4 linked regions of the Homo sapiens genome follow. The protein of the gene in region 3 interacts with the protein of the main gene of each other region in a biochemical or structural test. Each region holds a gene or a part of one and is shown on either strand. Other genes may lie near its edges.

Evidence for each region.
Region 1: the proteins of SPI1 (region 3) and NFYA form a complex in vitro, tested with the Homo sapiens proteins (one study listed by BioGRID).
Region 2: the proteins of SPI1 (region 3) and ETS2 form a complex in vitro, tested with the Homo sapiens proteins (one study listed by BioGRID).
Region 4: the proteins of SPI1 (region 3) and ETS1 form a complex in vitro, tested with the Homo sapiens proteins (one study listed by BioGRID).

Annotation. Positions count from the first base shown.
Region 1 is NC_000006.12:41,089,968-41,096,990, reverse strand, and holds part of NFYA (nuclear transcription factor Y subunit alpha), read right to left. Parts: intron 6,788-7,023; coding exon 6,682-6,787; intron 5,464-6,681; coding exon 5,297-5,463; intron 4,080-5,296; coding exon 3,906-4,079; intron 2,596-3,905; coding exon 2,494-2,595; intron 1-2,493. UniProt on the Homo sapiens protein: Component of the sequence-specific heterotrimeric transcription factor (NF-Y) which specifically recognizes a 5'-CCAAT-3' box motif found in the promoters of its target genes.
Region 2 is NC_000021.9:38,800,958-38,808,928, reverse strand, and holds the start of ETS2 (protein C-ets-2), read right to left. Parts: upstream 3,001-7,971; 5' UTR 2,959-3,000; coding exon of another isoform or gene 2,809-2,958; exon of another isoform or gene 2,121-2,808; intron 1,493-2,120; exon of another isoform or gene 1-1,492. UniProt on the Homo sapiens protein: Transcription factor activating transcription. Binds specifically the DNA GGAA/T core motif (Ets-binding site or EBS) in gene promoters and stimulates transcription.
Region 3 is NC_000011.10:47,368,546-47,375,568, forward strand, and holds part of SPI1 (transcription factor PU.1), read right to left. Parts: intron 1-7,023. UniProt on the Homo sapiens protein: Pioneer transcription factor, which controls hematopoietic cell fate by decompacting stem cell heterochromatin and allowing other transcription factors to enter otherwise inaccessible genomic sites.
Region 4 is NC_000011.10:128,584,550-128,591,520, forward strand, and holds the start of ETS1 (protein C-ets-1), read right to left. Parts: upstream 3,010-6,971; 5' UTR 2,939-3,009; exon of another isoform or gene 2,128-2,938; coding exon of another isoform or gene 2,091-2,127; exon of another isoform or gene 1,791-2,090; intron 380-1,790; exon of another isoform or gene 1-379. UniProt on the Homo sapiens protein: Transcription factor. Directly controls the expression of cytokine and chemokine genes in a wide variety of different cellular contexts. May control the differentiation, survival and proliferation of lymphoid cells.

The sequences.
Region 1 (7,023 bases), on a different chromosome or scaffold from region 3:
ACTGTTTTTTGATCATCATTTAAATACTGAGTACTTAGCAGGGCTAGAAAGAATCATTAGAATCTATACACTTTAATGTACTCGTTTTACAGATAAATCTGAAGGCCAGATGGGTAAAGTGATTTGCGTGGACTAGGGTCAGGGTCAGAAAGTTAGGAGTCCAGCAAGGGCTAACTCCCAAATCTCCTGACTCCCATTTCATCTTCTTTCCACTAAACTCTATATGCTGTTTCTCACTTAAGACCTACCGTGTTAACACAAGGATAAATCCTTGGAAGCTTTTTGCAACACTCCGCAAGAACCACCTTTAGTTCCCCCATACCAAGGCTCTGAAGCCTTGGTAGGCAGGATCTGAGAAAAAGCTGAAAGCCTTCTGGAGATGGAAGACTGGAACTGGGTCTTGAACAATGAGCAAAAACAACTAGCATTTACTGAACTCACCATGCACTAGGTATGGTGCTACACAGATGCCTAATGTGGATTACTGAATGAAATCCCTACAACATTGCTGTGAAGTATCAACAGTATTCCACTTTACAGATAAAAATAAAAGAGGCTGAATTGACCAAGATCATATTGTTAGCACACAGAATGAGGAGAGTTCCTGGCACAATGCCCTCCTGCCACAATAGCTGTCAGGCCCACATTCATACACCGTTATGAATGAATAGCAATGAGAAAGGAGGGGCTCTCACACTACAGGTGAGGATTAATAGCACTGAAAGAGTTGTTAGTGTTCATGTGTGGGGACACTGAGGAAACCTAGTTTGATTGTTGAGGGGGTGATAAGGCAAAGTTGCTTAGATGTTATACAGAAATAGTTTGAGATTTGATGCAGTTAAGAAATGAGAACTATTAATAGCATGCATCCTTGACCTGGGGACTGGCAGGTTAAAAAAAACACTTTAACCATGTACTGTATAAGTACTATATAAGGCCAATTAGAGGAGACTGGAGATTAATTTGATGGATATTGCAATAGTGCAAGTGGAATGTGATGTTAATATAGAATGGAGTATCAGCAAATGGGAGGAATCTATTAATTCAAGAAACACTGATTGCTTGGTTCAGAACTGGATACTAAACCCAACAAATACATCTAAGTCAGTACTTAAATACAACTTACTTAAATAGAATTAAGTCCAATAAATATAACAGAGAACGAAACAATCCTCTACCCTCTATACAACTTACAGTCTAGTGAAGGAAACAATCTTGAAAAATTCAACAACTTAAATATTATTACACTGTAAAGAAAAGGGCCAAGTGCAATGGTGTGCGCCTGTAATCCTAGCACTTTGGGAGGCCAAGGCGAGAGGATCGCTTGAGCCTAGGAGTTTGAGACCTGCCTGGGCAACAAAGTGAGACTCCATTTCTACAAAAAATTTAAAAATTAGCTGGGCATGGTGGTGCGTGGCTATAGTCCCAGCTACTCGGGAGCCTAAAGTGGGAGGATCACTTGAGCTGGGAGGTCAAGACTAAAGTGAGCCATAATCACACCACTGCCTCCAAAAAAAGAAAAGATGTTGTAAGAACATACTGAGAGAGAAGAGATCTATTCTAGATAGGGTATTTAATTAAACCCAGACCTAACAGATAGGGAGATAGACATGCATGAAAAAGATAAAGGGCATACAGACTGAAAATTCTAAGGACAAAGACCCGTGGCAGGAAGTAGACCAATGAACAGTAAACAGCAGCATAGAGACCAAGAAGTAGAAATGCAGTTAGAGGTAGACAGGAGCTGGAGCATGTAAGGCTTTGCTGGGCATAGTAGTAAGCACTTTGGATGTCAGTCTAAGTGCAAATGGGAAAGGGTAGGGGTTGAAGGAGCTTGAGCAGAACAGGGACTTGATAGGATAAACATTTTAAAAAGATCACACTAGGATGTGGAGAGTAGGCTAGAGGGGAACAAAAGTGGAAGAAGGGAAACCAAATTAAGCAGCTATTTTATAAATCTAAGCCAAAGAAGAGAGGATTAGACCAGGCTCACATCAGTTAGAAGGGAAAAAAGTAAACATTCAAATTATATTTGTGATGGGGTAATAAAACCTGTTCAATAAAAATAAAACTTGTTCCTTGAAAATTAAGAAAAGTGTGATTTTCAAGAAAGAATGAATAGTAATAAGTGACAAAGACGAAGAGCATCTCAACCCTCCAAGTAGCTGGGACTACAGGCATGCATCACCAGGCCTGGCTAGTTTTTGTATTTTTTTGTAGAGATGGAGTTTTGCCATGTTGCCCAGGCTGGTCTTGAAATCCTGGGCTTCCCACCTCAGCCTCCCAAAGTGTTGGGATTACAGGCATGAGCCACCAAGTCTGGCCTAGTGGTTTTAAGATAAAAGATAATCTAAAGAGACATAAGATTGCATCCAGTTTAGAGAATGTGAGTAGTCCCAGAGTAGGAAAATAGCAAGAGGACACTGCTGAAGGCTTCAACTCAAGTCAATACAAGGTAATAAAGAGAAGAATAAAATGTATATGTCTTCCTACCTGCATATGGGGACTATCCTTTTCCTTTGGAGAGAAAAATCGTCCACCTTCACCACGCTTCCGTGCCATGGCATGACGGTGCCGAGACTCATGCAGGTATTTCTAAAACGAGAAATAAAACCATTTAACTATTAATACTATCCAGAACCAGCACAGTTATCTAGTGCACAAATTCCATTCTCCAAAGTTTAAGACAGCTGGGATCAAAGTCACAAGGGACAATTATGACTTAGAATGACGATGGAAGCTTTGGAGAAAACACCTAGTAAGTAATATAGCTAACCATATATAACTACTGTAAGACTGTGAATGCTTATAGTATGAATTTTTTTTAAAAAAAATAACAGACTACCACCTACACTTCACAATATATACACTTTCCTCTGCTTTAATAACAGGCCAAATTTCGTTTGAGCAAATGAGTGTTCAGTAAAAAGACTTTCCTAGCATTAAAGTTTATTATTATTATTTTCTAGAAACAGGGTTTCACTCTGACACCCTTGCTGTTGGACTGCAGTGGCATGATCATGAATCACTGCAGCCTTGAATTCCTCGGCTCATGTGATCCTCCTGCCTCTGCCTTCCAAGTAGGACTACAGGCATTTGCCACCACACCAGGCTGGACTTTCCTAGCCTTATCTGCATGTTAGGTGTGATCAGGTAACTAAATTCCGGCTAGTGGAAGGTACACAACTTCTTCAAAGTTTCCTTGAAAGAAAGGGTACCTGGCCGGGTATGGTGGCTCACGCCTATAATCCCGGCACTTTGGGAGGCCCAGGCAGGTGGATCACCTGAGGTCAGGAGTTCGAGACCAGCCTGGCCAACATGGTGAAACCCCGTCTCTACTAAAAACACAAAAATAAGCTGGGCGTGGTGGCGCACACCTGTAATCCCAGCTACTCAGGAGGCTGAGGCAGGAGAATCACTTGAACATGGAAGGTGCAGGTTGCAGTGAGCTGAGATTGTGCCACTGCACTCCGGCCTGGATGACAGAGCAAGACTGAGTCTCAGGAAAAAAAAAAAAAAGAAAGGGTACCTTTCTTGTTCCCTTTCTTCCTAGGCTGGAGCCTAAGCAGGAATCTTGGACCATGAACAGCACACTAGCAATATTAAAGCAGTGAAACAGGTCTTGAGAACTGTGAAAATGTGCTACCAGTCCAGGATAATTTATCTCTGGACTACTTTTATGTATGAAAAGGAATAACATCTTATTTAAGCCACTGTTTGTTTTCGTTATTATAACTGCAGCTGCATATTAGTAATAACAAATGCTAACTCTTACAAAAGAGACAACAAGTATCTAACGTCAATTGTTTGGAAGGTACGTGAGAAAACAAGCCATATAAAAGATAATTTCAAAAGTAGAACCCTGCTATTCTCCTTTCCTATATCCTTCCCAATGTTATACATACCCTTCTCTCCTTTGGAATTTTCCCTTCTGCCTCTAGTTTAGCTCGGGCTTGCCTCCTCTTAAGAATACGGTGGTATTGTTTGGCATTCACGTAGAGAGGCTCTTCTTCAAGCATCTCTGCTCCAGGTAGAGGGATTCTTTGGATAGCAGGCACAGAGCCAGCCCCAGGAACCATCTGTGTGAACAGGAAACCAGAGCTTATTGGTGGCATGAAGTATGGACATAGAAACAGTTTCTTGGTTCCTCTTCATCCATTTTTTTTGTAAATGCCACAAAAAGTAATTTTTATAGGGTACTTGGGTAAATGCGGATCCCTGGAGAAATTTATACTAAAGATCTGCACTTTAAACAAACACCCCAGATGACTGTGTCATAGGAGATTCAGGTGCCACTCTGAGAAACTATATAACCATGCCCTAATTCATGTCCACCCATGGCTCTAGATATTTCTGCTGCCATCTAATGGTCAGGAACAGTAGTCATAAGACAAAAAAACAGCACAAAAATAGATAGACCAAGTGCTACTAAATGCCTATATTTATAAAAATAATAGTTAACTTATAATTCAATCCTAATTTTTCTTAAAAAACACCAAAACACTGTACTAAATGTAGGTAAAAACAAGTAACAGAGTCCTGTACCCCACAGCTCTTTCCCAAATACAACCGCTTTGAATAACTGTATTGAATCTTTTATAAAAATTATTTATTTTTCATTCAATTCGTAGAAACGAGGTCTCTCTACATTGCCCAGGCTGAGCTCAAACTCCTGGACTTAAGCCATCCTCCTGGATTAGCCTCCCAAGTAGCTAGGACTACAGGTGCATGCCACTGAGCCAGGGTTGGTTCTGTTTCTTTTCATAGCTTCCTCCACCTCTGTGCAGACTTCTGTTACTCATTCTTAATTTATGCATTTTAACATCCTATTTTGACATATGAGGATTTAGCTTTCAGTTACACCACCCAAATCTTCCTATCTTCCCAATACATTTACATGACACTTTTTTTTTGGTTTCTCTATCAATTACAATCTTTCTAATTTTTAGCTTATTTCTTATTTTGTCCATCATGGGCAATACTACTTTCCACTTCTCAAAGATTAGTATATAATTCCCTTCGTTATTTGAATTCTGAAAAGAATTCCATAAAATCACTATTTATCCATTGCTTTATCTCCAGCATCTAGAATAGTCCCTGGTGAATAGTCCCTGGCACATAGTAGGTGCTCAGAATGAATTATGGTTTGTCATAATGTTATTGTCAAAGTAGATTACCGACAGTGCCTTAAGGATCGATCTCAATCCCAAGAGGTCAACATAATAAATTTTAGGAGGCATCAAGTTGCATGTTCAAGAAAATTTCAAAGACAAAGCTGAAAAATACATTTTCTTACCATGACCATCCCTCCTGAATTGACCACATTGCCTGCCACTGGTAGTGTCACAGTGACAGTCCCTTGCCCACTGCTGGTTGTGTTGGTATTGGCTCCTGTTTGAACAATCTGTGCTCCTGCCAAACTGGCTGCTGGGATAGTGATCATGCCTGAAACAGGGACTGTAACTTTAAGAAAACAAAACATAAAACAAACAAAAAACAGGCACACAGAACAGAAAGAAGGGAACATAGTTAGTCCCTCTTCTATCTGGTATACACTCACCGATCCTGGCAAAACACACTGAAAAACACAAGGGGAGAAAAAGTACTCTCCCACTGTGGTGTGCTATATATAATCTAAGTAATCACAATCTTTGAAATTCTATTAACTGTCTAGGTCCCAGTTTTGAGTAACTCTATCCTTAGCAGTTTTCAAAAGGTGAAAAGGTTTGGAGGCCTCCTCTTCTACAGGTCAGTCTGACTACAGCTATACCTACTGCTCTTGTACATAATGAGCAATCTGCTTCAGGACAGAGATTTTAAAACTTATACTTTGTTTATCTCAAACTGACAATGAGTCAGTTGTAGTATTAAAACTTAAAATTAAACCAAGCATTCCAAGTCCCCAGACTATCAATAGCAGCACTTGAGGATTTGTTCACCATTCTGTTTGAGCTCTTGCCTGGGCTCAATCCAGTTCAGGGCCTCCCTGGAGTAATACAAGAGCACACAGTTAGTGCACTCTCTGGATCCTGTATATTGCAAATTTGCAATCACAAAGTCATGGAATCTAACAAAGATGTCCTTTTTTGATTTAACTATTTGACTAACAGGTGCTTCCAAAAGCCTTCAAGTTCAGTTTCTGCACTCCTCCTCCCAGACCAAACATCTATTATTTATGTTATCTATTCCTAGAACATACTTCCATGAGGGCCCTGCATTGTATTTATTTGTTCACGTCTTTCTTACTAGACTAGAGGCTCTTTGAGGACCCTTCTTAGTAAAAGTGCTGTATACATAATAGTCATTTAAAGTAATGGAATGACCCAGAAAAAAACATAAGCAGCAATAGCACTCTAAAGCCAACTTGATTTTTGATCTATTTCTCTCTTTACCAATGAACTCCCTATTTCTATTCTTCTGTTTAGAAACACTTCTTCCCTAAAAGCTTACACAATCCCTAGATTAGCAACCACTATAGAAACTGCTACACATGGAATCACTGTTGGTCACAGATGGTGACAAGAAACCAACAATCAATGGAGAGCTAGAGGAAATCTTTTTTTTTTTTGTCCAAAAAATATGTAGTGTCAAGTTCACCACTCAAATTCTAAAGATGTCAGTTGTCTAAGGGACAAAAAAGTTGCCCCAAAAAGTCCTAGGGAAGCTTATGGGTACACTTACCTTGCTGGAGAATGGTGCCATCTGCATTAACTGGTTGATAGACGATGGTCTGCCCTTCAGCAGTCTGTGCCACTTGCTGTCCCTGGACAGCAATCTGCTGCTGTGTCTGGAGGAAATAAGTAATGACACAATTCAACAGATCCCAAAGATACTAACAAAGAACGATGTAGTCCTTAAAAAAAAAAATTATTTTTTTGAGACAGAGTCTCACTCTGTCGCCAGGCTGGAGTGCAGTGCAGTGGCGCAATCTCAGCTCACTGCAACCTCCGCCTCCTGGGTTCAAGCGATTCTCTGCCTCAGCCTCCCGAGTAGCTGGGATTACAGGCATGCGCCACCATGCCC
Region 2 (7,971 bases), on a different chromosome or scaffold from region 3:
AGCACCGATGAATGGCCTTCACCTCTAGGGTGATTCCTTGCCCTCCCAGGTTCATGGCTATGGAACTGAAGGCTGGTGGCAAAGCTCTAAGCCTAGCTCCATGGCCTCCACTGGGTGCTCTTACCTGTTTACAACTGAGAACTTTTTAAGTAATTCAGACAACATTCAACTGATAGAACTTACTGGATGTGGCGAAATAACAAAGGCTCACCGAACTATTTAATTTGCATTTATTTTCTTGTTTTCTCTTTATGATCAACATTATGGCTAAACCAGACCTTCCAAGAACCCTGCTACCCAACACACACCCAACACACACACACACACACACACACACATACACACACACCCCTCTTGGCTAAAAGGCAGCAGGTGAGGCCAGAGGCATCAGAAAATTCTGTTAAAACACTCGGAGTGCAGGTAATGATCATGGTAGCCAACAAAGGCTGGTCAGCACTGGCAATAAATAATAGTCCTATGAGAGGACAGAGAGGGGCAGCAGTCTTGGGTCCAAAGTGGCCACATTCACTCAGAATCTCCACTTGGTGGATTATGCCACTTATATTCACTCAACAATCAATAGTCTCTCCTATTGATGGCTGCCATTGCCAGAATGCCTAGTTACTAAGAGCTAAGCCCCGTGCTGGGGGACCATCCACTCCTACCTAATTGAATCTTCCTGCATCCCTGAGAGGCAGACGTCATACAGTGAAGCAACGGAGGCCCAGCAACATGGACAATCTGCCCAGGATCCACATAGCTACCAGAGGGGCCACCGCAGGGCAAAGTGGAGATCAAACCCCAGTTGAGTATGGTCCTAAATCCTGAGTCCTCCACACAGTCCTCTGTGCCGGGAGAACATGAATGATGAGGAATGGACCCTTCCCACCCATCCTGATATTATCAGATCAGGCCCTTCTCACTACTCCTTCCAATGTGAAATGCTCCTTCCTCTAGAGCTTTATGTCATTTCTCTGCATGAAATAAGTCCTGGTAGCTGCTGATTAAAGAAATAAACAAGCCTCAAACAGAAGGCCAAAATCATAGACATCTTGGGTGTTGCCAGTTATCCATCCAGAGCCGGATGGGTCAGCTCTTTTTCTTCCTTAGGCTTGCAGACTGCTTGCTGACTTGATTCTGTTTTTCAGCTTCTCTGAGATGGACAGAGAATGAATGTGGAAGGCAGTGGAAAAGCTCTCCCCAGCTTTTGTGTACAAATACCAGGAGAAAAGGCAGCCTACCACTCCCACATAAAGAGCTGTAATTACTAGCTACAGAATAGAATTCTTTTGTTGTCCAGCTTTTAATGAGTTTTGTAAAAACCATGCAGAATTAAAGTGCTCTACTAAATGGTTTCAGGCAGACACACAACTAATCAAATTTAAGCTTGCTTATTTTACTCAACAGGGCTTGTTAGATGGCAGACAAGCCAAGTTTTTCCACATAAATCAATTTCAAGTTTGGTGTTGCTGATGGATCGCTGCTTTTAAACCAAAAAAAAAAAAAAAAAAGGATAAAGAGCAGAAATGTAACAGCTGAGAATGGTTACATTTAAAAACAAGGAGAATTTGCCTGACAACAGTACCCTTATTGGAACAAGTAATCACTTATGTAAGATTATTTAGATAAATTTGAAAACAAACAAAAAAAAGAAACAACACAACCTTGTAACACACATTTGAAGGTAGTTTGCTTTTTTCGCTTTGAAAGCGATCAGTTTAGAGAGATGAATGACTAATCCCAGAAATGAGTATCTGAGCATTTCCCTGCGGATGGTCGGTGCTAACATTTACTGTGCTGCGCTACTACTCAGAATTTTAATAAAGCTTAACGTGGAGATTTATCTCTCTGATTGGTGGTGGTGTGGGCAGGCAGATAACGCACAGGCGCTTCCATTGTATGGAACAAATATAATCTCTTACTGGCGAATTAAAATAAATTACTCCTGTCTCCAAAGGGGACTGCTCATTTCTTTACTTTCTAAATAACTAGCGCGTCAACTACTGTTTTAGGCTACCCTGAAATTGTGTACAGGCTAACATAAAAGGTCTCCTGCCGTAAAAAATAAAATAGGATAACACACACGCAACCCAAACACACACAAGCAAACACTCAGTTACCTCTTCATTCAAATGCTGTAGGAACGAGAAAATAAAGGCAGCCCAGCGCAACCAGATCTCATTTCCGACAGGTTCCCCACGCTCTCCTCGCACGACCGAGGGGTCCCCAGCCCGGGCCCTGGACGCGGCGAGCAGGTGACCATGGCACCCCGCGCCCCGCAGGTTCCCGCGGTGCCGCAGCCTTCAGGTGTCTTGGGCGCCCCAGATCCTCCGGGCCCGGCGCCGCTCCAGGAAGTCACCCTCAAAGCCGGGGCGCCAGGCCACCTCGGACACGCTCTCCTGTGCCCCCACTCCCGTTCGCGAAATCATGTTCGCCGGGACATCCACTGGGCAGGACCCCCTACCAGGCCTGCGTTTCCTTTTAAAAACAAAAGCGAGCGAAACAAGCCAGCGCGCCCTGGCCGCGCCCGCCGCTAGGCGACCCCGAAGACAGCGGCCCTAGCACGCAGGAACCCCCCGGCCGACCCCGCCAGCCCCGGAGGCCACTCCATAACCGGAAAACGAGCCGGCGCGGAACTCAGACGCGCGCCCCTAGAGTCCTCGCAGCAGCCGCCACCCCCACCTGCACCCCCGGCAGCGCCCCGAGATCTGCGTGTCAGTGCCCCCCGCGACCCCCGCCCAGGCCCCGGGTGACCCTCCATGGGACTGGAGCCGCGCGCCGGGCGCTCTCTGCGGGCCCAGCTCTTACCCTGCCGCTGCGGGCAGGGCCGGCGCTTGGTCGGGACGGTGGCTGCTCGGCGCCCGCGGCTGCTCGGTGCGCGCCGGGCGAGGGCGAGGGCGCCGGCCAGAGACGATCAGGGAGGCCGGACGCTGGCCGGGCGGCTCCGGGAGCTCTGAGCTGGAGCGACACCGCACTCGTCAGTCTCTGGAGGAAGTAACCGGGCCGTCCCCCACGCGGCGCGCTCTTCAGGAGCGGGAGGAGGAGGGAGGAGGGAGGAGGAAGGAGGGACGGCCGAGTGGAGGGGAGGGGAGGAAACGAGGGAGGAGAGAAGAGAGAGGGGAGGGAAGGGGAGGAGAGAGAAGAGGAGGGGAAGGGAGGTAGGCAGGATGGGGAGAAGCGGGAGGAGAGGGAAGGGGGCAGCAGGAGGGTTGGGGGAGCGGAGGGAGAGGAGAGGGAACGCACGAGGGGAGAGAAGAGGAGGGCGGAGGCGGCGAGGGAGCGCGGGGCGGGGCTGACACCTTCCGGCCCAACCTTCCCTCCGCCTCCTGCTGTCACTCGGCTGGGTCCCTCGCCGGCTGGCCCTGAGGCCCCGGGAGCAGGGCCTCGGCCCCACGTGCGCGCGAGTGTGCGCCCTGGGAGCCGGGCGGAGACTTTCCGTGGAGCGCTCGGCGTCCTCTCTGGGGCCAAGGCCCTAACGCCAAACCTGCCTTTGGAATTCCGCAGCGACGGAGCAGTGGTGCTGGTGGCACCGAAGGGCAGCCGGGCTTGGGTAATAAGGCCCTGAAATTGAGCCGACCCCATTCTTGAACCTCTGAATGGGCTTAGGACTAATGATCATTCTATCACAAAAAGGCTCCAAATGAGGCGCTTCCTGTAGAAACCGGGCCCTGGCTGTGTCCCCGAGTCGTGGTGCTGATCGCGCTGCTCCCGGGAAGCCCCGATCCCGCAGGCTCCGCGGGAGTGGCGCCCTCTGGAGCTGAGCGGTGCCCAGATAGCGACCCGCCTTGGCCGCGCTTCAATCTGGGCTGGGCACTCCACGCACATCATCGTCACTCTCGGAGGACTTGCGGCTCCCACTTTACACAGGTGGGAACTGAACCTTAGGATGAATAACCTGCCACGTCAGATTGATGAGAAATTCAAGGTGGAAACCTGAGTTTATCTGACTCCGAAACCCTGGTCAAAACCACCCCCTACACTGTGGTTTCCGTTTTTATCAGAAGGTGCTTGAGTCCATGGCTGTTTGGACTCAGGTCACATGCTCAATATTTTGCAGGAAAGTTTAGATTCCTGAAGTTGTGGATGAAATAGGAAACCCCAGCTTAGGCGAGGCCACGGGGCTGAAAGCTGCTCACATCTCAAGAACTGCGGCACCACCGGGAAGGGAGAGGAATGGCCCAGCTTCTCTGTGACTCAGGGTTCTAGGTTTCCATGGTGACTCTAGGTCTAGAGTTATCCGGATAATTGAGATATCGGTGCACCTTAATGTTTCTGGGTCCCCGAAGGTCTCCGGGTATCACCGTGGCATGAGTCACAGTCAGAATCTATACGGCTGAAACAATCACGTATAGGGGAAGTGATTATTTCTTGGAGACTGAATTGATTCTGATGGCTTCTCAGTGTATATTCAGGCCCAGATTAGAGAACACAGATAGGTCAAGAAAGAGTTCCATAAATGGAATACAGATCCATAGTAAGTTACCATGGAGACATGAGTATGTTACTATTTTTTTAAAAAACCGTAGCAGAAAATACTGACTCATCTGGGCTGCAGTTTCAGCTAATATAGGGTCTTTCTCCCTCAGGCTACTTGCACAGCCCTGAGAAGCTGGGTATAGACAGCTGCTCCCCAAAGCTCAGCTACTTCCCGAAGCTCACTTGCCCCAAGCAGACTGCCTTGTCCCACCATGCCTGCCCTCGTGTTCATGGGTGCTGAGTGCCAGGTGCTCCAGGGCTCCCTGAGTCGCTGATGGGCTCCCTGAGTGGAGCCATATTTCCTCTTTGCAGGGCTGGCACAGGCTGGGGGCTAGGAGGTGGTGCTTTGCTCATGCTGGGCTGTTTCCAACATATATGAGCAGAAAGATATCAAAAGAGGAGCACAGGAGTTTGAAGACCACCGGTTCCCGACAGTGGAACCTTCCTCTGCTCACTAACCTTGGGCCTCCTCTACAGAATAAGGGATGATTATGGAACCTACGTCCTTAAGACTATGGCAAATGACATAGAACCAAATGTGCAGAATATGTTAGAGTGTTGAGTACATGGTAGAGAAGGACTCAAAATGATCTAGCTATTAAGAATCTTTTTCCAAGCTCTCCTCAGGGAGGATTTTATAGAAAACATTTTGAAAAAACTATCATATACACGAAAAAAAAAAAAAAAGTCCTGCCCCTCGCGGGTTTAAATGTGTGAAAGCCTTGGGAAAGGGATCCCGGCCGGAAGACCAAATGGCAGAGCTAAGACGGCAGGGAGGCTGTGGGAAGAGGAAGCTGGGCCTGTGTGCTGGGGTCATCGTAAGCCTAAGCTCCTGCCTCCCACCCAGGTCCCTGGTCCTCCCTATTTCCCCTTCCAAAGAGTCTGAGGCTGCCCCAAGCAGCCCCCTTGCCCTGGGTCCTGCCCTGTAGCTGATCCACCTCTGCACGAGGGCAGTCACATGTTCATAATAAAATGGCTTATCCTAGTTCTGGGGCAATATCAGGGTTCCTTACATTTTTGTCCTTAATACTAGTTGGCTTGCCAGTTACTCAGCAGAATTAAAAAGCAGTCTGGCTGAAGCCAGTGATTATTCATTGACTGTTATCGTGCGATTCACAGGGAACAATGAGCTTTACAGTAAATTAAACCTAATAAATAAAAGTATAGCCCTTGTGCTTGGAGATCAAAAGTCGAGGGTGTTGGAAGGAAATTAAAAGTCAGAAGGTGCACAGGGTGGAGTGATCAGATGCGCTATGGCAGACTGAGTTATGAGCAATGTTAACACTTTCCCCTTAAGAAAGAGGGACATTCACAGAAGAGAGGAGGAAAAGGGATATTACAGTAGAATATATGTGTTACGAACATGAAATATCTAGAGAGTAAAATGCAGAAAAAGAATTCTTTAGAATCCAGACATAATTATGAGAAATGATTAGCTAGCTTACGAAGTCATCCTTTGAAAAAAAACACACACAAAAACGTCTCCTTAGAAACATGTCTGTATTTACCTTAAAATCCAAATCAGTAGTCAACAGGCAGTTTGTGGTGGTTTCCAGTTGCAAGTTAAACAGACGTCATTTGGTCCGAAGTGCATCATTCATTCACTTAGCAAACACAGAGTCAGATGCTGAGAAGACAAATATGATTAAGGCTTAGTTAGTTCCCGCCCTCAAGAAGTAAAAGTGAAGTGCACAGTTCAGTTAAAATCACATGCACAGTGAGACTTTGGTAAGGAGTGGAGGAAGAAAAGAATGAACCTAGAGATAGAAATCATTTCCTCATGTGTAAGCTGCCGCCTGCATCTGGCCTGCTGGGGTGTCTGGCAGTGGTGGCTATTTCACTGATATATGTTGGGGTCAAGGACTTGATAAGCTTAACCCACACTTCCGCCCACCTCCGAATCCAACCAACCTTGCCCATTTGCAGGCTGGCCCAGCTACCAAGAATCCTAGGCAGATGTGGGGCCGTGGAGCTGCCTCCTGCTCCATCAGGGTGGACCCAGATTATGCAAGAGTTGGCCAGTGTCTAGTCTTTTCTGTGAGATTCCTTGGAATGGCAGATAGGGTATTCTGCTGGTGGTCAAAAACGTTGCTAATGCTCCTTTCTAATTCCTTCTGCTCCTTGTCAGCCTCCTTTGTCCCTTGCACTCCCTGTGGGCATGAAGACATGGTTACCCAGCTAGGGCTACCGTCTTCACCTCTGAAGGGCAGCCTGTGGGCCCAGACTGCCTGGGGTCAAATCCCGCCCAGCCATTCCCTAGCAGGCCACCTGTGGGCCCCTCGGGGCCTCCCTCTGTTAATGTCTCCCAAGCACTTAGAACAGTGTCTGGCGTGTCATTAAGTGTGTGATAAATAAGTAGCAGGTCCCCTGGCCCTGGAAGTCTTGGTCTCCTGCGGGCATCGCTGATCACTGCTGCCCTGCACTGGCACTTTTGGTTGACAACAAGGTATAAAATCAATCCCAGTGCTGTCAATGGGAACCATGGTGTCTTTGACTATGTTTTTCTTGCCTTTGGTGGTCAGAAACGAGAAAATGAAACATTGGATTTTAAAACTGGAAAAAACTTCAGAGAGCTGATGGCTCAGACCAACTCTGGTTTGTAAGATGCAGAAACTGAGACCCAGGGAGGATCAATTCCTTGCCCAGGGTCAAATGCCTATTTCCTGGCAAAGCTGGGGCCACACTCCAGGCCTCCTGCCCCCTCGTCCAGCACACTGCCACCCTGACACAGTCATTTTCCCTTATAAGGCAGTACTCTGGGAGGGTATAAACCGCTTGAAAATCCACCATGATATCAAACTGCACAGTGACGTGCTTTAGGCAAGTCTGAACAACCAAAATAGTAATAGCGACCCGTTGTATTCTGTAAAACTGATAATCCCTAAATAAATGTGTCTGAACTGAGTCAGACGTGTACAGATATATGATTTTATAGTTGTGTGTTTTTGTCTGAATCACAAAATGATTCCAACAGTATGCATGGAACTGAATAATCCTCAGTGCATCGGCTTATGTATTTTGCTAACTAGAAAACTGAACCACTAGTCTTCACACAAACCAAGAGTTAGTCATTCCTGTGCCAGTCAGTCTAGCAAATGATTAAGTTAGCTTAACTCACATTTTGGTGACAAAATAAAACTTGGATTAAAGTGTTAAGGCTGAATAATGTCACCGACTTAAGCAGGTGTATAAAGAAATCATTCAGAAGTTGGAATATTTTTAAGTTATAACACGTCTTTGGTGGAATGGCTTTCCAATTGCTGCAAGACTTTCCACCCACGTCTTCCCATTTATGACTTTAAGTGTGTCTCTTTCAGACCGACTGAGCTATTAGTACCTCTTATCTATGGCTGTGGTGTAGAGTCATCCCGCCTCACCTCGTGTTCTCTGCTCCAGGCAAATGCTGCCTTTACCTCTAAATTCCAGTGGTCACCACCTGGGACATGCCCCTTTGGTGCAGGTTGAAGAACCAGAGGAGGGCCAGCACCTCCACTC
Region 3 (7,023 bases):
AAACGTGGCGCGCGCATACAATGGAATATGATTCAACCTTAAAGATGAAGGAAATGCTGACACGTGCTACACCATGGGTAAATGGGTAAGCCTTGAGAACATTATGCTAAATGAAGGCATAAAAGAACAAATACTGTGTGAATCCACTCATGCGGGGTACCTAGAATAGGCAAATTCATAGAGACAGAAAGTGGAATGGTAGCTGCCAGAGGCTGGGGGGAGGGAAAATGAGCTGTTGTTCAGTGAATACAGAGTCTCCGTTTTGCAAGATGAAAATAATTATAGAGATGGATGGTGATGATAACGTGAATATATTTAATATCACAGAACTATACACTTAAAATGTAAAGAAATGGTTAAGATGGTTTAAAAAATGGTTAATATTATGTGTATTTTACCACAATTAAAAAGAGTAATAGGCTGGGCATGGTGGCTTATTCCTGTAATCCCAGCTATTTGGGAGGCTGAGCCGGGTGGATCACCTGAGGTCAGGACTTCAAGACCAGCCTGGCCAACATGGTGAAACCCTGTCTCTACTAAAAATACACACAAAGAAATTAGCCAGGTGTGGTGGCGCATGCCTGTAATCCCAGCTACTCGGGAGGCTGAGGCAGGAGAATCACTTGATCCCAGGAGGCAGAGGTTGCAGTGAGCCGAGATCACGCCACTGCACTCCAGCCTGGGTGACAGAGTGAGACTGTCTCAAAAAAGCAAACAAACAAACAAAAAGCATAATAAACAATAGCAAATCCTGTAAGCCCTTCAAAGTCTATCTTGAATCTGTCCCCCCCTTTCTGTCTCTGTTGCCACCACCCTTGTCCAGGTCACCACCATCTCTTTCCTGGATTATTGCAATAGTTTCCTCAATGTTCTTTTTTCCAGCTCCTATTCTTGCCTCTTTTCCATCTGCTCTCCACCCAGAGTGACCTTTTAAAAAGCTTACTCAGTTGAATCATGAGACATTGGGAAAAGATACTAAAAACTTCCAGAGAAAGAAAACAAAAGAGAGAGAGAGAAAAAAAAAAAACAACAAATGAAACAAACAAAAAGCTAGGTTAATTATAAAAGAAATTTAAAGGAACATGGAGTGGTATCAGACTTCATAGGAAAAACTCTAGTAACCAGAAGACAGTAGAAAAATGCTTTCCAATTTCTAAGGGAAAAAATGATTTTCAACTTAGATTTCCATACACAGCCAAACTATGATTAATTAAGTGACAGCATAGAATAAAAGACATGAGGCAAAACACAAAATAAAACCATCACCACCACAACAAAAACCTCACCTCCCACACACCCTTTCTTAGGAGACGACCATGATAACAAATCTGTACAAAACATTTGCTATTTCCAGGCACTGTTCTAAGCATTTGACATACAGTAGCTCGTTCAGTCCTTACAGCCATCCTGTGAAGTTGGTATTGTCATGAAGAAGTTGAGGCACAGAGAGGTTGGAGATCTTGCCCATGGTCACCCGGATAGCAATGGAGGAGATGGGGGATGAGTTTCAGCAGCCTGGTTTCAGAAGAGTTCTTATCTCCTTGCTACATTTCCCCTCAGAAATATGGGGATGAGGCCCGGGGACAGTGGCTCACGCCTGTAATCCCAGCACTTTGGGAGGCTGAGGCCAGTGGATCGCCTGAGGTCAGGAGTTTGAGACCAGCCTGGCCAACATGGTGAAACCCCACCTCTACTAAAAATATAAAAATTAACTGGGCATGGTGGCACACACCTGTAATCCCAGCTACCCAGGAGGCTGAAGCAGGAGAATTGCTGGAACCCGGGAAGTGGAGGCTGCAGTGAGCTGAGATTGCACACTGCACTGCAGCCTGGGCAACACAGAGAGACACCGTCTCAAAAAAAAGAAAAAAAAAAAGGCCAGGCATGGTGGCTCACGCCTGTAATTCCAGCACTTTGGGAGTCCGAGGCGGGCAGATCACTAGGTCAGGAGTTCAAGACTAGCCTGGCCAACATGGCGAAACCCCATCTCTACTAAAAATACAAAAATTAGCTGGGCGTGGTGGCGGGCACCTGTAATCCCAGCTACTCAGGAGGCTGAGGCAGGAGAATTGCTTGAACCCAGGAGGCTGAGGCTGCAGTGAGCAGAGATTGCGCCACTGTGCTCCAGCCTAGGCGACAGAGTGAGACTGTCTCATAAAAAAATAATAATAATTAAAAGAAATATGGATATGAGAAAGTACAGGTAAAGAAAGGATGCCATGTGGCTCAGCTGTGAGTAATAGCCACATGGTCATAACAGTGGAAAATTCAAATACTGATTTAACAAATGTTACCATATAGAGTAATGAATTGGGGATGTGTGGAGAAATGTGAGTGTGTGTGTGTGTGTGTTGTGAATGACTAAAGTTGAATTCTGATTGTACAAGTAAATAAAATATATCTCTAACTGAAAAATCAAGCTGCCTGACACATCAAAGGCACTCAATAAATATTTGCCAATAAATAATGCTCTAAGTCTCTATTCCACATCTTCATTTGTACATTTACATAGCACTGGAATAGAAAGACTGGAGGCCGGGCACGGTGGCTCACGCCTGTAATCCCAGCACTTTGGGAGGCCAAGGCGGGTGGATCACAACGTCAGGAGATCAAGACCATCCTGGCTAACACGGTGAAACCCTGCCTCTACTAAAAATACAAAAAACTAGCTGGGCATGGTGGCACTCGCTTGTAGTTCCAGCTACTCGGGAGGCTGAGGCAGGAGAATCGCTTGAACCCGGGAGGTGGAGGTTGCAGTGAGCTGACATCACACCACTGCAATCCAGCCTGGGCGACAGAGCGAGAGTCCATCTCAAAAAAAAAAAAAAAAAAAAAAAAAGGCAAGGCGTGATGGCTCATGCCTATAATCCCAGCACTTTGGGAAGCCAAGGTAGGAGGATCACCTGAGGTCAGGAGTTTGAGACCAGCCTGGCCAACATGGTGAAACCCCATCTCTACTAAAAAATACAACATTAGCTGGGCATGGTGGTGCACACCTGTAATCCCAGCTACTTAGGAGGCTGAGGTAGGAGAATCGCTTGAACCTGGGAGCCAGAGGTTGCAGTGAGCCAAGATCACACCACTGCACTCCAGCCTGGGCAACAAGAGTGAAACTCCGTCTTAAAAAAAAAAAAAAAGATTGTAAATGTATTTAAATTTTCAGCACACACACATACACAGAAGGTTATTCAGATCATGGTCATGTCATTTCCCTGCTCAGAACTCCCCAGTGGCTTCCCATGGTGTGTATGATAAAATCCAAATGCCTGCCATGGCCTTCGCCCTGCGTGAGCAGCTGACCCCTTTGGCTTCCCTTTCTGTCCCCTGCCCTGTGCTCACTGGCCTCTCTGGTCCTCTGTCAGGGTCCTTTCTGCTTTTGCATTTTCTGTTCCCTTTACCTTGAATACCTCTCCCCTACCTATGGTCACATGTGAATTACGAGTTCCTTCTCTTAGCTCAGCTGCCACCTCAAAGGCCTTCCCTGACCACTCAAATGAAAGCAGCCCCCCATGTAGACACTCCGCATTACATCTGCAGAAAATGGTCTCTTTGTCTGATTCTTTTTTTTTTTTTTTTGCTGGAGTCTCGCTTTGTCTGTCACCAGGTTGGAGTTCAGTGGCGCGATCTCAGCTCACTGCAACCTCCGCCTCCGGAGTTCAAGCGATTCTCCTGCCTCAGCCTCCCAAGTAGCTAGGAGTACAAGTGGGCACCACCACCTGTATTTCTAGTAGAGATGGGGTTTCACCATGTTGGCCAGGATAGCCTCTATCTCTTGACCTCGTGATCCACCCACCTCAGCCACCCAAAATGCTGAAATTACAGGCATGAGCCACCACGCCCCAGCCTATTTAATTCCTTATGTCCCCATCCCCTCGCTGGAGAGTGAGCTCTGTGAGAGCAGTGGCCTTGTCTGGTGCTCATCATGGACTCCCCAGAGCCTACAAGAGTGTCTGATACTCAGAAACTATTTAATGGATGGAATAGGGAGGAAAAGTGGATCAGATGGGAAGCGGCTGGCAGGATGGACGAGTAGGTGGGTGGATGGGAGGGTGAGTGCATGGATGTGGGGGTGGGTGGCAGATTGACTGTCCCCTGGGTCAGTGGAAAATAACCCAGTTGGTCTCTCACAGAGCCCTCTGTGCTTTTCCCACTCCCCAGCCGCTTTGTCCCTCCTGCCTTGAGGAATGCAGTGAAGCTAGCACGGGCCTCGTCCTCTGCACGTTACCTTACCTCAGAGATTATATGCCTTACCTCGCTGAATCATCACAGCCCTAGGAGGTAAGTATTTTCATGCTGTCAGTTTTATAAATGGGGAAATAGGGACTCAGAAAGGTTATGTTACTTGCCCCAAGTTTTCACAGCTGGTAAGTGATGGAGCCAGGGCTGGGCCAAAGCTTTTTCACTAAGCTTCAGTACCTAAAAATGTGGACAAAGAGGACGTGCAGGAATTGACAGAAGTGTGTGGGGGTCTCTATGGTTGAGTCTTCAGACGATACCTTCCAGCGGGTATAAAAAGGGACAGCCCGGCCGGGCGCAGTGGCTCACGCCTGTAATCCCAGCACTTTGGGAGGCTGAGGCAGGCGGATCACCAGGTCAGGAGTTCGAGACCAGCCTGGCCAACATAGTGAAACCCTGTCTCTACTAAAAATACAAAAAATTAGCTGAGCGTGGTGGCAGGCGCCTGTAATCCTAGCTACTTGGGAGGCTGAGGCAGGAGAATCGCTTGAATCCGGGAGGCGGAGGTTGCAGTGAGCCAAGATTGTGCCACTGCACACCAGCCCGGGCGACAGTACGAGACTCCGTATCAAAAAAAAGGGACAGACTGGGCGCGGTGGTTCACACCTGTAATCCCAGCACTTTGGGAGGCCGAGGCAAGTGGATCACTTGAGGTCAGGAGTTTGAGAGCAGCCTGGCCAACATGGTAAAACCTCATCTCTACTAAAAATACAAAAATTAGCCAGGCATGGTAGTGCACGATTGTAATCCTAGCTACTTGGGATGTTGAGGCAAGAGAATCGCTTGGACCCAGGAGGCGGAGGTTGCAGTGAGCCAAGATTGGGCCACTGCGCTCTAGCCTGGGCAACAGAGCAAGACTGTCCTAAAAAAAAAAAAAAAAGAAAAGGACAGCCCAAATGCCCTGATTGGCAGTGATTAAGAGTGGGACAGAGCCAAGGCCGAGGACACCTGGGAACACTGGTGGAGTCTCTGGAGGAACTAGGGGTTCATGACCAACATGGGGTGCCCAGGCATCCAATCAGGAGTCATTCCTAGAGTCCCACCTGAGATATAAGGAACCTGCTTGGACCCTGAGCCACGAAAACACATGCTTTCTCTAAAGTGCTCACTCCATCAGGCCCAGCCCCAGGCTCACTGGTTTCCAGCTATGTGGGCAGCGCCCTCATATTACAGGAAGGAAAACTGAGGCTGCAAAAGGCCCAAAGGAAACGCACCCAAGCCCAGTGAACTGAAGAGGGATTGGGCCAGGGAGAATGCGTCCTTGTTGGAGGAGGCCTGACAGCACTGTCTGTGGTGACCCGAGCCACCAGGGGGCGCCTGTCCCAGGGCCCAGCGGGACCTCCTGGAGTCCTGGAACCGCTTGGGAAGGTGGGTGCGTGGTCTCTGGGTCCCCCAGACCGGGCTCTTCACTCTGGTAGGGAGAGCTGGGGATGGAGTTGGGGGAGGGGGACTTTCTCTCTACATTGCCTGGGTTTCCCACCAAGAGGATGTGTTTTTTACATAATTACAAATAAGCTTGAAGGAATTAAAAAGGATATTTTAAAGGCTTTCTAGCCCTGAAAGATTCTAAAAGATGCCTGTGCGTTCCCAGCTGTGGCCTGGAGGCATATCCGCCTACCCCTGGGATATGGCTTCCAGTCTGAGTTCCGGATGAATCTGGGGCCCTAAATGTGGACCAGGCACATGTGGATCCCTAGCTGGGCCCATCAGGTTTAGACCGCCACAGGTGCATCTGCAGAATGGAGCTACAGGCATGACTGGCCGCAGGGGTGGCCTTCAGGAGTGACACCTTCCTAGGCTGTGGGCCTCTGCCCTCTGAGGTGCAGACACCCCAGTCGCTGGTCTGCCCGGGTCCCAGACGCCCTGAGGAATTCCCCAGTGACGACTCACCCACTGACTAGGCCACCTCGCTTTGGGTCAGGGATGTCTACATCAATAAGCCAAGATCCACTTTGGGCAACCTCCCGCAGCCCCCTGCTCAGGTCCCAGGCACCTAATGCCTCTCTCCCATCCCCTGAATTTGCTCCAGGACGGAGGCTGGGCTATGGGGCAGACAGTCAGACCCAGAAGGACTGGACAGACAGAAGGACACCCTGGCCCAGGCCTCTTCCTCCCACTTCAGCAAACTGGGGGCCTCGGCCTCTGCTGAACAAGAGGTTCTCATAGGTTTTCCTTCGGCCCAGCAGTTCCCAATTAGGGGTGATTTTGCCTCCCGGGGGGATCTGCCAATGGGTGGAGACATTTTTGGTTGTCATGATTGGCCATGGCCCTGGCATGTGGTAGGTAGAAGCAAGGATGCCACTAAGCTTCCTACGGTACCCGGGACAGCCCACCCAGGAATCATCCCACCCAAAATGTCAGCAGTGCCACAGTTAGGAAACCCTGCCAACCACACATGGCAGGAAGTGCGGATGTGCCGGCGGGGAGTTTGGGACAGAGAGTGACGAGAACAGAGAGGAGGAGGTGGGTAGTTAGGCAGGGGCAGAAAAAAAAGCACAGGACCTGGAGCGGACAGACCTGGGTTCCACCCAGCAGCCGTGTGACCTTGTGCAAGTCTCCTAGCACCCTAAGCCTGTTTCCTTGTTTATAAAGAAGACCACAAGGACAGAACCAGCAGATAACCATGGAAGAAATGAACCCCGCACCTTGACACACTGCAGAGGCTCCATAATGGAGGCTCAGGTGTGGGGGTGCAGCGATGATGCTGCAGTTCACTGCCTTTGAGAGCAAACTTGATCTGATTCTCAGAATTCCAAAGAAGTCCTGGGAATCATTTATTCTTTTTCT
Region 4 (6,971 bases), about 81 Mb from region 3:
TACCAAGTGCTCAGTAAACGTTAGGGCTGAGTATTCCTCCTTAGGTGAAATGAAGAAGAATGGATATGATAACTAGAAAATCATCTACATTAAAAGGTGGAGTTCAATAAGCTATACTTTCAGTACAGCAGGGATAAAGGAGATGAGGAAGCAAAAAGTAAGTTATGTCTTCACATCTAATTTTTCCCAGGATTGAAGAAACTTAAAAGATTTGCCTGAAATGCCACTAAATTGCTGCATACCACATTAATTTTGCTCAAATGCTAAATACTTTATCATTTCCATAATGAAGAAAGAAAGGGAGGAAAGGGAAGGAGGAGGGAAGAGGGAGAGAGAGAAGAAGAAGAAAGGAGGGGAGAGAAAAGAAAGAAAGAGGAAGAAAAAAGAGAAAAGAAAGAAAGAAAGAAAGAAAGAAAGAAAGAAAGAAAGAAAGAAAGAAAGGAAGGAAGGAAGGAAAGAAAGGAAAGAAAGAAGAAAGAAAGAAAAGAAAGAAAGAAAGAAAGAAAGAAAGAAAGAAAGAAAGAAAGAGAAAGAAAGAAAGGAAAGAAAGAAAGGAAGGAAGGAAGGAAAGAAAGAAGAAAGAAAGAAAAGAAAGAAAGAAAGAAAGAAAGAAAGAAAGAGAAAGAAAGAAAGAAAGAAGGAAGGAAAGAAAGAAAGAAAGAAAGAAAGAAAGAAAGAAAGAAAGAAAGAAAGAAAAAGAAAGGAGGGAGGGAGGAAAGAAAGAAGGAAAAGAAAAGAAAGATAGAAAGGGAGGGAAGGGAGGGAAGAAGGAAGGAAGGAAGCAAGGAAGGAAGGAAGCAAGGAAGGAAGGAAGGGTCCCAGCTCGTGGGACGTAATCATTCCCTTCTGCTGTTTGATGTGAACAGTTGGGAATTTTGAACTGGTAATTAGAAAATGATAGTCACTATGGAAAACAGATCTATTCACCAATAATTAAAATCACAAGGTACATCAGAACCTCAGTTATCAGTAAGAAATTCACCAGTGCAATCAAAGAGAGAAATCTGTTGATTATTTGTTTGCAGTGTTTTGCCTTCTGCCTCACCCTCCCCTAGGTGAGAGGACCTGCACCCACACACCCAGTTTGTTGAAGTATTACTTCAGACAGTCCTTGACCTCACTGGCACTCTGATTTTTCATAGCCCTATGCTGTTTACTTCTATTCTCTCATATTTGTAAACCAGGCGGGGCGCAAATGATTGCTCACCTTTTAGAGATGAAGGGAAGAAGGCACAGACACGTTCAATCCCTGTTCTCTGTTACAAAGCTAATCACTGACATAATCCAAGTGCACAGCCACTTTCCCTTCTCCGACCCAGCGCTGGTTCAAGTTCTGACCCCACTTGCCTTTGAACTCCATTATCGTCCGGGACCGGCCACTGGCCCAAGTCGGTGCTCTGGCCACAGACTGCCAGATGCCAAAGGATCCCACCCCTCTACCAGCTTCCCCCAGGCTCTGCCTCAGGACATCCTTTCACAGCCAGCAACTAGCACCTCCGTGTAAGGAGCCTGCCGGGCAAAGATGCCCCCTCCATAATTAGGCTCTCGGCTTGGCTTCCCACATCCTCAGCAGCGGAACCAGGACGGAAGAGGCTGCATGGATGCCTGAACTGTTTGTTATTTCACTATTGAGTTGGCAAGGATGGAAGTAGTTGATTTACAATTAGAAGCAGCATGCTTCTTCAAATATTAATATTAATAACTGCACTACTGAACACATGAAAAGACCTTTTCATCTTCAAAGCACTTTGCAGACATTAACCCATTAGCTCTCCCTTCCCTCCATTCAGGAACAACAGGTGAGCAAGACTCTCAACAGCAGCAGTGGCCACCCTGCAGCCCTTGTGCACAGCCCACGGCCCCTGAAGAAAAAGCGTTTTCTCTTTGGATAAAAATAGGCCACCAAACCCAAAACCACAACTGATGAAAGAGTTATAGTATCAGTAATTTTACAAATCAAATGGAGCTGATGGAGTTATCATTTTAGAATTGGTATTTCCTGCTGTTTAACAAATACTTTTTTCTCAGTTGCATGGCAGTGGTCTAAAGTAAGAAGGAAAATGGACTTGAGATTAAAAACAAAAACTTACCCAAAAGGTGATAAAGAAATCCTGCAATAGAATGCATTGATTTCAGTGACCCAGCACCCTTTTAAGTTTGCCTGAAGAAAATACTACTTTAAAAGTTGGTAACAGAGACCTTTAACGGTGGGTGAGGAGTCACATACAAAGTGTCACGGCCAGATAAAATCACCGGATGCAGAGGAATTGCCATCGACATCTCCTGCCACTGAGTCCAGCTCTACCGTGGGGACAAGAAATACCTCCCTAACTCTGAGACAACCGCGGCCCACACCCACACCATGTCTCAACAACAGACTTAGGAACTTGTAGATCTTTGGACAACTGCAGGTCAGTCCCAAGACAGAGAAAAACACCAAACAGGCTAGTTTGGCTAGCAAGATTCAAACCTGTAGCAATTTCCTCTCTATTAAAAGCAATTCATTAAACTACTAGCAGGAGAAAAAAGTAAAACAATAGATTTACTAGGAGTGAAAGAGAATAAAAAGAAATTTATATATTTAACTACAGCTTTATTTCTTTGGAAGTGCTCCAATTTGCAAAAAAAAAAAAAAAAAATCAGGGTTTCTGACAAGTAATCTACGGGTATCTAAAACGTGCATGGTTTTACTTTTGTGAAGCAGGGAACATTTTTAAAAACATAGTCTTGCTTTCAGACTATTCTGACGAGGTTAGGAAGTATTTTTGAAAATTGTTAAACAATTAAATGGGAATATAGAAAGACGTGAAAAGAGAAAGAGAAAACTCACTTGTATCCTGAATCTCCCTACCGACTTACTCTTTAATTCCACAGAAATTTTTTTAAAGCAGGAAAAGGAAAATGGACTGAAAAGTTTTAGGCAGAAACTGACACACACCTCACTTACTACTTTGCCGGAGAGCAGATCCTGAGTGAGCTTCCCTCAAAGTCTGTGGTCTCTTTCCAACTACCTGCGGGAATCCTCTGCTCCGTAGCTTAAGAGGATGCAAAGACCATAATGTTTCTAATAGAGCTGCCTCCTTAAATTGGGGGGTGTGGTCAAGCCAGGGAAAGCTGGAAAAAAGGCAGTCTTCCTCTTGCCCCTGGCACCAGGACAGCAGCCACTGGCACAGGCACAGCAGTCTAGGTGGAAAGCACTGTTGATTGACAGTGGTGGCACCAAATCACACATTATTTCGTATTCTTCAAATTGTGCTTCAGCTGAATATAACTCAGCCTTGGAGAGTAACAGGGAGGGAGATGAGCAAAAGGGAACTAGTTCAGTGGGATAACACTGTATCTCACCTCATCATTTGCTGATGCATTTACTCTCTGCTGAATATGTAAATATTCATGCTTCATGTTCCTTGACTTTCTCAATGGAGCCCCCATTAACCTAGGCAAGGTCTCAGGTGAGGGAAAGGGATTGCTTTAGAAACACAGGACGTCCACCACCCAGTCACCTGCTCAGGCTTCCCGTTTCTCTCTAATAACTTGATATGAAATGTGATATTTTCTAAAGAAAAGAAAATAATTTTGTGGAAGAGAGCTGACTGGATATGGACTTGGGATTTCTGAAAAGTAAAGCTAAAAATCCCCTTTTCATATAAGTCTGGTTTTAGGCAATCTCTAAAATAAGGATACTTTTAGCAGCCCTGACTCATGGTCCGTGGTGCAGGAATAAAAGGGCAGAAGTGTTCATACATTTCTCATTTAGGGAAAATGTAAACAATATGAAAATCTTACATCTGTCCTAAGTGAAAATACACAGCATCTTTTATTCACATATTCAGGACTATGGTAAGAATGTTACAGCATAATCTCATTTCTATGAATGGAGTTATTACAATTTTTTTTGAGAAGTCAGTATTTGGCTGCTTAATCTAAGACTTTTATCCTAAAAGATTCCATCTTCTTTGAGTAGGAGGTGGGAGTTAAGATTTGTCATAGTTGGCTTCTTTCTCTTTTTAATAAAGATACAAACTTAGAAAATCCTTGAAAATCTAATAACTGTCATTTGGAGCCATATCATCATCAGCCTTCATTGTATAAAGCTGGCAATGCAGTTAAGATGACATTGTAAGTAAAGCAAGATTTTACTGCTCATCTTCTGCCTTTGCACATTAACTTGGAAGTAAGGAAGAGGTAATGCTATTGGTTCACTTTAGTTTAATAAATTGCCTGTGCCAGGCACTGTTCTAGGCACTAGAAAGATAGCAAGTTTGCATTGTAGTGAGGAGACAGACACATAAATCAACGATCTCCCCCCAAAAATGTAATACATGCTACAAAAGAAGTCTATGAAGAGAGCTAGGGAAGCTTCAGCCTGCCCCTGTAACCCAGTCAATTTCAGCACACTGCCCCATTTAAAGAGCCCACGGTCAATTATACCAATCATAACTAATTACAACTGTATTCACTATGTTTGCAGGATAATTGAAAAAAACAAAGTTGAGAAGACTTGGATTCTTGCTCTATAAGGGTGTACAGTGTGGCTGTCAAGGGGTTCTGAAGTCTGGAGTTGTCTATGCTGAGTTTATATAGAAAGCAACTCTTCAGGACCTTAGCTCCCTCCTCTGACACGGCCTTTTACGGTGTGGAAGAACATAAACTAGAAATCTTAATAGTGCAAAATAAGCCACCACTGTCATAAATTGCCTAGAGAATGCCCAGGAAAACAGTAAGTTTTGTTTTAAACAGTATTTTCAAAAATATAACATTAGATGGGTATCCACATATAAGAGCATGACATTGGACTCCTACCTTACACCATACTCAAAAATTAACAAAAATCTATCAAAGATCTGAACATAAGAATGAAAATTATAAAATTCTTAGAAAAAATCAAAGAAGAAAACTTCATGACATTGGATTTAGCAATGATTTCCTGGGATATGACAGCTTATCCCAGGAAAAAAAACTTGGGCAACAAAAGAAAAAATAGATAAGTTGGACTTTATCAAAGTTTTAAAATGTTGTACATCAAGGGGCACTATTAAGACAGTGAAAGGGAAGTCCACAGAATGAGAAAAAAAATTGCAAATCACATATCTAATAAGGACTTAATACTCAAAATATATAAAGAACTCCTACAACTCAACAGCAACAACAACAAATAACCTGATCTAAAAGTGGACAAAAGACATGAGTAGACATTTCTCCAAAGATGCAGAAATGGCCAATAAACACACGAAAAGAAGGGCAACATCATTAATCATCAGAGAAATGCACATTCGAACCACAGTGAGGTACCTCTTCACATCTATTGGGGTTCCTATTATCAAAGAAACAGAAAATAATGGCAAGAATAAGGAGAAATAGGAATAAGGGTGTGTTGCTGCTGAGAATGTCAAATGGTGCAGCCACTGTAGAAAACAGTGTGGTAGTTCCTCAAAACAATTAAATATAAAATTACCATTTGATCTAGCAATTCAACCTCTACATATATAGCCACAAGCATTGAAAGAAGAACTCAAAAAGATGTCTGCACAATATTGTTCATAACAGCGTTATTCACAATAGCCAAAAGGTAGAAACACCCCAACTATTTATCCACAGATAAATGGATAAGCAAAATGTGGTATGTACAGAAAATGGAACATTATTCAGCCTTGAAAAAGAATGAAATTCCAATACATGCTACAGTATGATGAACCTTGAGGACATTATGCTAAATGAAATAAACCAAATACAGAAAAGACAAATATTGTGTAATTCTACCTGTATGAAGTACCTAGAATAGTAAAATTTATAGAGACAGAAAAAGGGATAGAAGTTAACACAGGTTGGAGAAAGGAGAATGGGGAATTCGTGTTTAATGGGGACAGAGCTTCGGTTGGGGATGATAAAAAAGGAATGGAGATGGATGTGGGTGATGGTTGCACAACATGTGACTGTACTTAATGCCCCTGAATTGTACACTTAAAAATTGTTCAGATGGTAAATTTTACGTTACATGTATTCTACCACAATAAAAGAATATGTTGTCCCGAGGGAAAAAAAAAATATATATATAGCATTAGAAGTCAGTAGGCTTCCGCAGAAGGAATGCTTTCTGATCCACATGGATAATATAGGACAAAAGAAAATGATGCTCTAGAAGAAGAAGGTATGAAATCCCTGGAGGATCCCTCCACTGCACGGTGGTGGCTCCCCAGCCCCTCCCTTATGCCGGCTCTTGAAGAGGGTGTAGTAATACCAGCCCAACTTCACAGGGTTGCTGAAATCACCATGCGATTAGATGACTGTGTAAACAGTAGAAGCAATGCTTTTCTTTCCCATGTCCATAGATAGCTCTATGAGGAAAGACCTCAATTGATAGGGCAATATGACCATTATGATTCTCAAGGAAAAAATTAAAACTCAGTGATCCAGGGACATGGGTACCTTTTGATCCCATGTAAAAGGGATATGCAAAATGAGTTGTTTGCTTCTTTGAAGGAGTATCTCTGTAGCCTCACCTAAACAATCGTAGTCTCAATATAGTTTGGATACAAGTGAGACAGAGCATGAAGGAATTTCTAGAATAGCTTTTCTTACTGTAAGGAAACCTTTTTCCTTTTCTCAGTATAACAAGTTACCTTGTAAGTTAGTATGTCTTAAGAGGAAAAATGGAAGTAAATTCCCAGAATCTTAGCTCTGCAAAGGTCTTCAACGCTCCCACCAGCAACCTTCCCTCACTGCCACCCCAACTCCCTAAAGTGCAGAAGTCCCCTTCAAAGCAACTTATAATGATTCTGTAAAACCACCCGCTGCAGGAAAAGTGTGAAGTTTGAAATTAAAAATGGCATTAAATTTAAGGAAAAGCAAAGCAAAACATTACACACGTATTGCATTTTCCATATTAACTTTCCTTCCATCTCAGAAAAAAGCCTCGTGATAATTCAGAAGACTTCATATGTGCAGAGAACCAGTATCTAAACAAACTACCA